Linked DNA regions of Homo sapiens. The protein of the gene in region 2 purifies or fractionates together with the protein of the main gene of each other region. This does not show direct contact. Each region holds a gene or a part of one and is shown on either strand. Other genes may lie near its edges.

Evidence for each region.
Region 1: the proteins of ABCB7 (region 2) and NDUFB6 fractionate together in Homo sapiens (co-fractionation; one large-scale study listed by BioGRID). This does not show direct contact.
Region 3: the proteins of ABCB7 (region 2) and ATP6V1D fractionate together in Homo sapiens (co-fractionation; one large-scale study listed by BioGRID). This does not show direct contact.

What each region holds. Positions count from the first base shown.
Region 1 is NC_000009.12:32,563,028-32,566,681, forward strand, and holds part of NDUFB6 (NADH dehydrogenase [ubiquinone] 1 beta subcomplex subunit 6), read right to left. Parts: exon of another isoform or gene 3,364-3,654; intron 2,602-3,363; exon of another isoform or gene 2,370-2,601; intron 1-2,369.
Region 2 is NC_000023.11:75,149,709-75,153,362, reverse strand, and holds part of ABCB7 (iron-sulfur clusters transporter ABCB7, mitochondrial), read left to right. Parts: intron 1-3,654. UniProt on the Homo sapiens protein: Exports glutathione-coordinated iron-sulfur clusters such as [2Fe-2S]-(GS)4 cluster from the mitochondria to the cytosol in an ATP-dependent manner allowing the assembly of the cytosolic iron-sulfur (Fe/S) cluster-containing proteins and participates in iron homeostasis.
Region 3 is NC_000014.9:67,353,178-67,356,831, reverse strand, and holds part of ATP6V1D (V-type proton ATPase subunit D), read left to right. Parts: intron 1-3,654. UniProt on the Homo sapiens protein: Subunit of the V1 complex of vacuolar(H+)-ATPase (V-ATPase), a multisubunit enzyme composed of a peripheral complex (V1) that hydrolyzes ATP and a membrane integral complex (V0) that translocates protons.

The DNA.
Region 1 (3,654 bases), on a different chromosome or scaffold from region 2:
TGAGGGAGAACAGCCCCTCAGTTTGGGTTTATCTTCTGTTTCCTCATATGAATTTAATCAATAAATTACATTCAAGTTATGCACCTTTGGCAGGAATATCACAAAAGTAATGCTGTGTTCTTATTGCAGCCTATCAAGTAACATAATTTCAGTTTGCCCCATTATCAATAATGTTAATTTAGACCCCTTGACTAAGGTGGCGTCTGCCAGATTTCTCTACTACAAAGATACTCTTTCTCTCTTTGTAACAAATTAAATATTTTGAGGATAAGTATTTTAAAATTAGTATTAGCATCCTCTTTTTTTTTTAATTTTCTTTTTTTGATTCAGATGGGAGTCTCACTATGTCACCCAGGATGGCTGGAGTACAGTGGGCAGCACAATCATAGCTCATTGCAGGCTCCACATCCTGGGCTCAAGCGATCCTCCTGCTTCAGCCTCCTGAACAGGTGGGACTATTGGGCTTTTTTTTTTTTTGGAGGGATGGGGTCTCATTATGTTGCCCAGGTTGATCTCAAACTCTTGGCCTCAAGCAGTCCTCCCACCTCAGCCTCCCAAAGTGTTGGGATTACAGGTGTGAGCCACTGTGCCCAGACTAATGTTAGCATCCTTTGATGTTCCTTAGCTGAATTAAATATTACTATGATGATTCTCAAATGGTAATTTTTCTAATTCTATCATTCAGCAAATTATTGCATCAAAAAGCTTTCTTTTCTACCCATTTATTAATTCACTTATTTATATCAGTTTGCACTCATGGATTTTCATTTTATTCAGGTGACTATCATCTATTACTATCATTATTTACTTTGAAGTTCAAACTGCCCAGGCAGGAGTCCTTGCAAGCTGACTCTGTGTCCTTTGAAATATGTTCCCATCATTCTTTCAGCACTTCTTTACTTTCTGGCACAATAATATGTTCCAAGCTCATCTTATACTTTCTCTCCTCCCGCCCTAGAATTGGCCACTGCTCTGAGCTCTGGGTCCTTTCAGTGCATAACTGTATTTAGAAAATAAGACCTAGCTTCTAAGTGTGCTAATTACTAAGGAGTGGCAATGTTTCCAGGTCCTCTCAGTGGACATAGCTAGAGAATATGTACACACAAACACGCATGCACACATCCACATTTACATCTATATCTATTTCTAGGTCTATCAATACATTTTAAAAACCATGAGTTCACACCAGTACCTCCAATTCCATTCTACCACCACAAACTTTTCTTCCTTTTCACATAGGTAACTCCCTTTTCCGGCAGTGAGAATCCTGTGTCCCTTTATCATCAACATATGTACTCACAGGCATACCTTACTTTATTGCACTTTGCTTTACTGCACTTCACATATATTGTGTTTTCTTATAAATAGAAGGTTTTAGCAACCCCGAGACAAGCAACTCTATCAGTGCCATTTTTCTTTTTTCTGAAAAATCTTTATTGCTTCTGCTGATTACACAACAAATGTAAAAATTCAAATATTACACTTTTTTAAAAAAAAGTACATTATAACATGTCATTAAATAAATGCCCATTTCAAAAAAATTCAAGTATCATAAAATACATGATTTAGAAAATGAGTCCTCTGTAATCCAGTCCCACCCCCATGTCCCCCAGGATTACTGCTGTTCAGATCAGCGTTTCCTTCCAGATTGTCTCTGCGCACTCACCACCTGCACTGCTGACATGAGCTCCATATTATCTGAGATGATAGTAACTCTGATAAATGGAGCAGGAGCAGGGTTCAGCTGCCAGTGCACTGAACAGCTTCCAGTTTCTACACAGAAACACTTTCTTCATAAAAGCTTGAAACTACAACATCCTTTTGCACTATGTAAATGTATCAAGTTGAATCATGAAATTAACGATCGCTCACCATTTTTGGCCTAGAAAAACGGCAGTTTCATGTGGTTCGACATAATAGCTATGGCCCTATTCATAGACATTGGGAGGTTTCCTACTTTTTGCCATTATAAACAATTCAGCAGGCCAGGTGCGGTGGCTCACGCTTGTAATCCCAGCACTTTGGGTGGCCAAAGCAGGCAGATCACTTGAGGTCAGGAGTTCAAGACCAGCCTGGCCAACATGGCAAAACCTCATCTCTGCTAAAAATACAAAAATTAGTCAGCCATGGTGGCGGACACCTGTAATCCCAGCTACTTGGTAGGCTGAGGCAGGAGAATCACTTGAACCCAGGAGGCAGAGGTCGCAGTGAGCCGAGATCGCGCCACTGCACTCCAGCCAGGAGACACAGTGAGACCCTGTCTCAAAAAAAAAAAAGAAAAAAATTCAGCAGTGAATGTCCTTTTATGTTCTTTATGGAGTACAAACATCTTACCCCCAAAGCATGACACCTCTCTTTTGGGCATTTAGAACAGTCAAGAAGGATGGAGCTGCCCATTTGCCATGGAAATGGAGAGCCAGCAGACAGCTGATGCATAAACAACTTGTCCCTCAAACAAGAGTGGCTAACTTCAGCCATGACACCGTTTTAGTATGGTGACCACACCACATGAGCAAACCAAATACTGGTAAAACCAGAGAACAGAAGAATTCCTCAGCTCAGGACAATTCTTATCCCTACTGACGACTCACAAGACATCCAGTGAGTACCCCAAAGTTGTCCTCTGGAAGTTGGGCTGTCAGAAGGTACAAAAAATGATTCAGGCCAGGCACGGAGGCCCACGCCTGTAATCCCAGCACTTTGGTAGGCCGAGGCAGGTGGATCACCTGAGGTCAGGAGTTCGAGACCAGGCCGACCAACATGGCGAAACCCTGTCTCTACTAAAAATACAAAAATTAGCCAGGCATGGTGGCACATACCTGTAATCCTAGCTACTTGGGAGGTTGAGGCAGGAGAATCACTTGAACCCGGGAGGCGGAGGTTGCAGTGAGCCAGGATCACACTACTACACTCCAGCCTGGGCAACGAAAGTGAAACTCCACCTACAAAAAACAAACAAACAAACAATGATTCAGAAATGTACTGAAATCAGATTTGCCGGAAATATTTTTTAAGGTTTTTTCCAGGAGCTACTGGAGTGACCAAAAAAAAAAAAAGGCACCTGTTAAAATTATGCCCACGACAGGCCTCGAACAAAGACGAGAATATGGTGTGTATATGTCACTGGCGCTTTCACACAGGCCACTTCCTCTTCAACCTTGTCTGGGGTTTGTAGATTCTGTTCAGGTCATAGCTGGTTTTGTGGGTGGTTTTCTTATGGCAGACAACACTAATTTTAGGTTCTCTGAGGTAGAAAGCAGGCCATAAAAATATTCCCAGTCCACTTCTCTTCCATCTTGTTCTTTAACTGCTTCCACCAGTGTAGGAATGATGGTGCGTTTTTGTTTCCACTATGTGATCCAGGTTCCAGGTCCAGAAGAGGAGCCTGCTCTCCCTGTTACTGTAGGGGTTGATGGAGTATCTTGACAAGCAGCCGTCCATGTCGAAGGGACCCTGGCAGGAGAACTAGCCTTCCGGTGTGCAGAGACGGCTGCCACCCTTGGCTCCTCTGTTGTATAGCTGCCGTCGTACTGCACAGACTGGAGCTTCTGGCACATGGAGCGGAGGACCCGCAGGAATTCCTCCTGAGCCTCTGCACCCACCATGGAGGAGCAGGAGCTCACCTCTCTCAGGTAACTCCGGATCCGGCTTTCA
Region 2 (3,654 bases):
AGAAACTACAGTGATTATTCAACAGTCGTCCCAAAATATACTAAAAGAATAGAAAACAGAACTTATTCATCCTGGCTAACATGGTGAAACCTCGTCTGTACTAAAAATACAAAAAAAATTAGCCGGGCATGGTGGCGGGCTCCTGTAGTCCCAGCTATTCGGGAGGCTGAGGCAGGAGAATGGCGTGAACCCGGGAGGCGGAGCTTGCAGTGAGCTAAGATCGCGCCAGTGCACTCCAGCCTGGGCGACAGAGCAAGACTCCGTCTCAAAAACAAGCAAACAAACAAACAACAACAACAAAAACAGAACTTACAAGAGAAATAAGGGTGTCTTTAAGTGGATTATAGATCATGGAACTGAAAAGGGTGAGAGGTGATTCAGTGACATTTAAAGTACCTGAAGCGGCCTGGCCCAGTGGCTCATGCCTGTAATCCTAACACTTTAGGAGGCCAAGGCAGGTGGATCACCTGAGGTCAAGAGCTCGAGACCAGCCTGACCAATATGGTGAAACCCCGTCCATACTAAAAATACAAAAAGCAGCTGGGCATGGTCACGTGCACCTGTGACTACAGCTACTCAGGAGACTGAGACAGGAGAATTGCTTGAACCCTGGAGGCGGAGGTTGCAGTGAGCCGAGATCGCGCCACTGTACTCCAGCCTGGGCGACAGAGCGAGACTTCCTCTCAAAAAAAAGAAAAAAAAAAAAGGACCTGAAGGGGTTATTTGTAGTTCAGTGATGCCTAAACTTAACTGGAACATTAGGTTATGATACAAAGATGTGGACTTCATTTGCAGGAAGAGGGATTTAATGTGCATATGAGAAATAATTTCTTAGACTAATAGTCTATCTTAGTCTGTTTGGGCTGGTATAACAAAATACCATAAACTACATGACTTATAAGCAAGAGCAATTTATTTCTCACAGTTCAAGGTGCTGACAGATTTAGTGTCTGGTGAGGTCTTGAGGTTCATAGGCGGTGCCTTTTAGCTGTGTCCTCATGTGGTAGAAGAGACAAGGCAGCTCTTTGGCCCCTCTTATAAGGGAACTAATCCTGTTTATGAGAGCTCTACTCTCCAAGTCCTAATCACCTCCCAATGACTCCACCTTTTAATACCATCACATTGGTGATTAAGTTTCAATATAGGAATTTTAGGGGGACACAAATGTTAAAAGCATAGTCCTTTTATTAGGAGACCAATAAAGACTTTTAAAATTATTAAACAATAATTTGCTGTCATTAGAAAAATACGAGCTGTTAGGAAGCAGCCAGCTTGGTTTTGAAAAGAGCAAGACATACCAAACCAATTATTCATATGAGTGAGTGACAGTCTATCTTGATTTCAACACGGCTTTTAATTGTCCCCTACATTGTTCTCACACAGTAAGCTTGGAAGGAATGATATTGAATACTATTAAGAGGTCTTGAGGTAGGAGTAAGCCTTACTGTAAAGAAAATACAGATGACTTAAAAGATTTTTATTTCTAAATGTTAAAAATAATGAAATAACTGGTGTGCAAAGGGCATAACTTGGTATTGTGGGATGAACACTGGACCAGGACACTTGACCGCCTGAGCTCTATTTGTACTGTTAATTATCTTGGACACATAACTTGTTCTTTTGGACATCAGATCCTGTAAACTAGTAATATTTGACTACCAGATCTCTAAGGTTTCTTGCAACTCTCTTGTTTCTTTACTGTAATCCTTTAGGACCAGCCCTTTTTATATAGTACCTCTACTTTGTGATCCTAGTTTACTACTGGTGTAGTATTCAGGAGCAACATAGGGTAAGTTTATGTTCACATGAATTTTTAATGGGACAAATTTGTATTGTTCTTGTCATATTTGTATATCTAAGAGTAGGAATAGAAAAATGTAATTTAATTATGAGCTTAGTATTTGGTAGTGTTGGGAGGATGGAAGTAGTGTGGAGGAAAAAGTAAGCTAGGTTCCGAAATCATCTGGGATGGTAGAAATAGATTCTAAGGGGTGGTGAAGAATAACAGTAATGCTATAAAAGTTGTAAATAAAGATATACCTTACATGGGCTGTATATGGTAAGGAATGGAAAGTGGCACTGGGACTTGAGAAGAGGAATTCAGGGGATTCTTTTTTCAGATATAGTTGAATAAATAACATTCTCTAAGTCATTGACACATTGGTTTTAACTAGTTATTAAGATTATTAGGAAGAGGAAGAAAATTTCATGTTTCTAAACTTTCTTTTAGAACACGAGGCCCTTTGAGAATCTGATCAAAGCCATAGACCTTCTCCCTAGAAAAATATACATACGTATGTGCTTCATTTTGCATGCAATTTCAGGGGAATCAGAAACCTATCCCCTCTTCCAGTCAGTAATCCCTGATTAATACAATATTGCTGGCTGGTGGGTTTCTAATGGTGTTCCTGAGTAGCCAGTGGCAAGATAAAGAGCACTTGTCACTGGGCAGCGGGGTAGAAATAGAGTGGAAACTTACATCAAAATTTTGATTAAATGATAAATGCATAATTGATCATTTAATTATTGTTATACAATTGTTATAAAATTAATATCATTTATTGCTGTATTGTTGTCAGTGTTATCTTAAAGATTTTGCTTTTTCAAAGAAAAGTATGTTCTTTCCCATATTGTAAAATAAGGTATATAATAAGAGATAAAATTGCCCATTCTGTATACGATTCTTATGCTTTACATTGTCCCCATTTTAATTATACAAAACCACATCTAATAAAAACGTCAAGACAGATATCTACAATCCCACATGTTAAATAATTTTTCCTTTTTCCTTTGAATCTCTGTTCTTTCATGTACATAATTTTTACATTATTGGGATAATTTTAAATTCTGTTTTTACTTGTGAGCATTTTTTTTCTTGGTGCTCAGTCTTGACCAAAATTAGGTCTTTTAATTACTTAAGATTTTAGTAATGTTAATAGGTATATATAGTTACCTGCAAAATGTGATATTTTTGTTGTTTTGATTTTCTCCTTCCTTTCCTGAAATCCATCTCCCTGAAGTCCTCATCTGTGCTCTCTTGACTCCCTTGTAGGATTTGCCACTAGTGAGTAAAGATACTTTTCAAGTCTTTATTTAATGTCATTTGGTCTTCACAGTAATCCGGTTAGGTAGATGAACATTTCTTTGTAGTAGCAATGGCCTCTTCTGTCCTTTTCAGTCCCTTAACTTCTGCCCTAGTTTTAGACCCTTATTACTTTATGCATGGGTTTTGTCCCTGCTTTCAGGGACTTGCCCTTTCAATCCATCCTATACAGCACATCTAGATTATTCTTCCTAAGGCATGACTTTTATCCCATCACTTCCCTGCATAAACTTCAGTGGGCTTTATATCTTAGCCTTAAAAATTTCCACCTAACTAGATTGCTAGCCATATTGTAAACTGTTTCTCTACAAATACCCTGTCCCTCCAGTCACCCTATATTGTTCCCTGTTCCTTGGACCATGTGCTTTTTTGTGTCTGTTCTTTTTTTTATGCCACACCCTATGTCTGAAATGCCCTCTCTCTAACTGGTGCCTATTTTTCAAATGTTAGTTCAAAGGTCAGTCCGTTCCCTGAAACCATTCCTTATAAGCTAATAAGACTTTGATTTCTCCCTCCTCTGAACTCCTACAACACTTTTTCCTACAAGTAGT
Region 3 (3,654 bases), on a different chromosome or scaffold from region 2:
TAGCTCCTTCTCAGGCTGGAAACTAAACGACCTTCACTTGATAAGACCTCTTGTGAGACCAGTCAGTGCAGAGTCAGCCAGTGATAATTGTTCTCTTTAAGGGGAGGCACATGTTTGGGGTACAGTGAACGTAGGTTGGAGCCTTAGTTTGAGCATTGGGAAAGTCAGTGGAATCAAAAGTCTGGTTCAAGTCCCTGCCCTGCCTTTTCTTCACTGAGTAACTTTGAGAAAGTTGTTTTACTTTTCTAAGCCTCATTTTTCTAATCTTTAAGTTAATGTCTAAAGTCCCTTTCAGCTATAGAATTGTCTTAGTGATCTTAGCCCTATGGTAAAAGATTCCAGTATAATTTAAGAATTTGGCCAAATGGTGTTTGTTTGTTTTTGTTTTTTTTTTTTTGTTTTTGTTTTTTTGAGGCAGGTTTTCCCTCTGTTGCCCAGGCTGGAGTGCAGTGACCCGATCTTGGCTCACTGCAACCTCTGCCTGCCAGGTTCAAGTGATTTTTGTGCCTCAGACTCCTGAGTAGCTGGGACCACAGGGATGCAGCACCATACCCAGCTAATTTTTGTATTTTTTGGTAGAGATGGGGTTTCACTATGTTGGCCAGGGTGGTCTCGAACTCCTGACCTCAAGTTATCCACCTGCCTCGGCCTCCCAAAGTGTTGGTATTACAGGTGTGAGCCACTGCACCTGGCCAAAAAAGTTTATTAGTACATGCGATTTTAAAACACCAGTCATATGAAATTATATCCCCTTAAATCACTGTGTCTAGGTTATACTGTGTCTAGGTTATACAACCTTATTGTTGAATTTTATTACCCAAACACTTGTTTTTTTGAGACCGAGTCTTGCTCTGTTGTCCAGGCTGCAGTGCAGTGGCATGATCACAGCTCACTGCCTCAACCTCCTGGGCTCAATCAGTCCTCTCACCTTAGCCTTCTTTGTATATGGGATTACCGGTGTGCCCTACCATGCCCAGGTAATTTTGATATTTTTTTTTTTTTGTAGAGACAGGGTTTCACCTTGTTTCCCAGGCTGGTCTTGAACTCAAGCAATCTACCCACCTTAGCCTCCCAAAGTGCTGATTATAGACATAAGCCACTGTACCACTTACCTTATTTAGAGCATTCTTCCTAAGGTCCTCCAGGTACTTTTCATTAGCTCTTTTTCCTGCCTGAAATACTCTTTCCCCGGAACTTATAACTGGCTCCTTTGGCTGTTCTAGTCTCTTAAGAGAGGCTGTTCCTGATCACCCAATCTAAAGTGAACACCATGTTTGCTTCTGTCATAATTCCTTATTTTAATTTTATTGTAGCATGTACTACTGCATGGTATGACATTTTATTTCTAGTCTTTTTTTTTTTTTTTTTTTTTTTTTTTTTTTGAGACAGGGTCTTACTTCTACATCCTCGAACTGGGCTCCACTTTTTTCATTATTAAATTGTATCTGGCATATGGCAGCAAGAACAGAAATGTCAGTTTCTGCTTGACTTTGGTATTGGGGCTTCTGATGGGGAAAAAAATTGAAACAAGGAAGTGAGGAGACTTCAGTGTAAATTTAGCTTGTCATTTCTCAGGAATCTTACGTATGTCATTTGTTACCTAGTCTTTTACAAATTAATAAAATGATTGCTGTTAGGATCTTGATTGATGATATCAAAACATGTTAATACCACACTTTTAATAGAAAATGTGGTAAATTATTGTGGTATAAAAAATGCAGGCCAGGTGCGGTGGCTCATGCCTGTAATCCTAGCACTTTGTGAGGCCGAGGTGGGCGGATCACCTGAGGTCAGGAGTTCGAGACCAGCCTGACCAACATGGAGAAACCTGTCTCTACTAAAAATAAAAAATTAGCCAGGCATGGTGACGCATGCCTGTAATCCCAGCTACTCGGGATGCTGAGGCAGGAGAATCGCTTGAACCTGGGAGGCAGAGGTTGCAGTGAGCCGAGATCGCGCCATTGCACTCTAGCCTGGGCAACAAGAGTGAAACTTCACCTCAAAAAATAAAATAAAATGCAAAAGGTACAAAAGAATATAGTAGTAAAAAGTAAATCCATATTTTTCATCCAGTCCCATTTATCAAAGGTAACTCTTGCCAGTTTTTGTGAATCCTTTCTAGAACTATTCTCTGCATCTATATAAGCACATTTTTTCCTTACTTTGCATAAATAAGACTGTTATATAGACAGCACATGCCTATATACCTTCGTCTTTTTTAATGACTGTATATCATTCCATCATAGGTGAACTCTGATGTATTTAGCATTTAGCTTGTTTCTCCCTTTTGCTATTACCATAAGGCTGGAGTACCCATCTTTTAAACCTTGCACGTGTTTTTGTACACATGTGGGAATAAATTTGTAGGATAAATTCCGCAAAGTGGAATTGTTGGTCTTGAAAATAATTGCATTTAAAATTTTGATATATATTAGTGGATAGATTTTTAAATCCTTAATATACCTCCAGTGGAAACTAAAACAAAGATATTATTTTAACTTACAAATCAAATAAGTATTTAAACTATGTTGGCATCATAAAATAAGGCTCCTGATAACATTTATGATGATTTAATAAATATTCCAGATATTGATTATAAAATTGTTTCTGTTGTAAATTAATAAACTTTTCATTTATGGAACACTGATGGTAGAAATCTACATTATTGGAAAACCAGTTGTCTTAGTCCATTTTCTGCTGCTATAACAATACTTGAGACTGGGTAATTTATAAAGAAAAAAATTTATTTGGTTCATGGTTCTGGAGGCTGAGAAGGGTGAGGGCCTTCTTGCTGTGTTATCCCATGGCAGAAGGCGAGGGTGAGAGAGAAAGCAAGAAAGGGTCGAACATGCCTTTTTTTTTTTTTCTAAAGGGACAGGGTCAGGTGCAGTGGTTCATGCCCATAATCCCAGCACTTTGGGAAGCTGAGGCTGGAGGATTTCATGAGACCAGGAGTTAGAGGCTGCAGCAAGCTATGATCATACCACTGCAATCCAGCCTGGGTGACAGAGCAAGACCCCATCTCAAAAAATAAGGAGTCGGGCCGGGCATGGTGGCTCATCCCTGTAATCCCAGTACTTTGGGAGGCTGAAGCAGGCAGATCACTTAAAGTCAAGAGTTCGAGATGAGCCTGGTCAGTATGGTGAAACCCTGTCTCTACTAAAAATACAAAAAAATATAGCTGGGCTTGGTGGCATACGCCTGTAGTTCTAGCTACTTGGGAGGCTGGGGTGGGAGAATTGCTTGAACCTGGGAGGTGGAGGTTGCAATGAGTCGAGATCGCGCCATTGCACTCCAGCCTGGGCCTCACAGTGAGACTCCATCTCAAAAACAACAACAACAACAACAACAAAAGGAGTCTTGCTACTATCTTACCCATGCTGGACTTGAACTCCCAGGCTCAAGGGATCCTCCCACTTACACCTGTAGCTGGGATTACAGGTGTACCCAGATGAACTCACATTTAAAACCAACCCACTCCTGCAATAAGGAACCCAGTCTTACCATAATGACGTTAATCCATTCATGGAGGGCAGATCCCAGATGACCCAGTCATCTCTTGATGGTCCCACCTCCCAACATTGTTGCATTGGAGATTGTTTCCAACACATGAAGATTAGGGACATATTCAAACCATAGCATCAGTTAAACCTG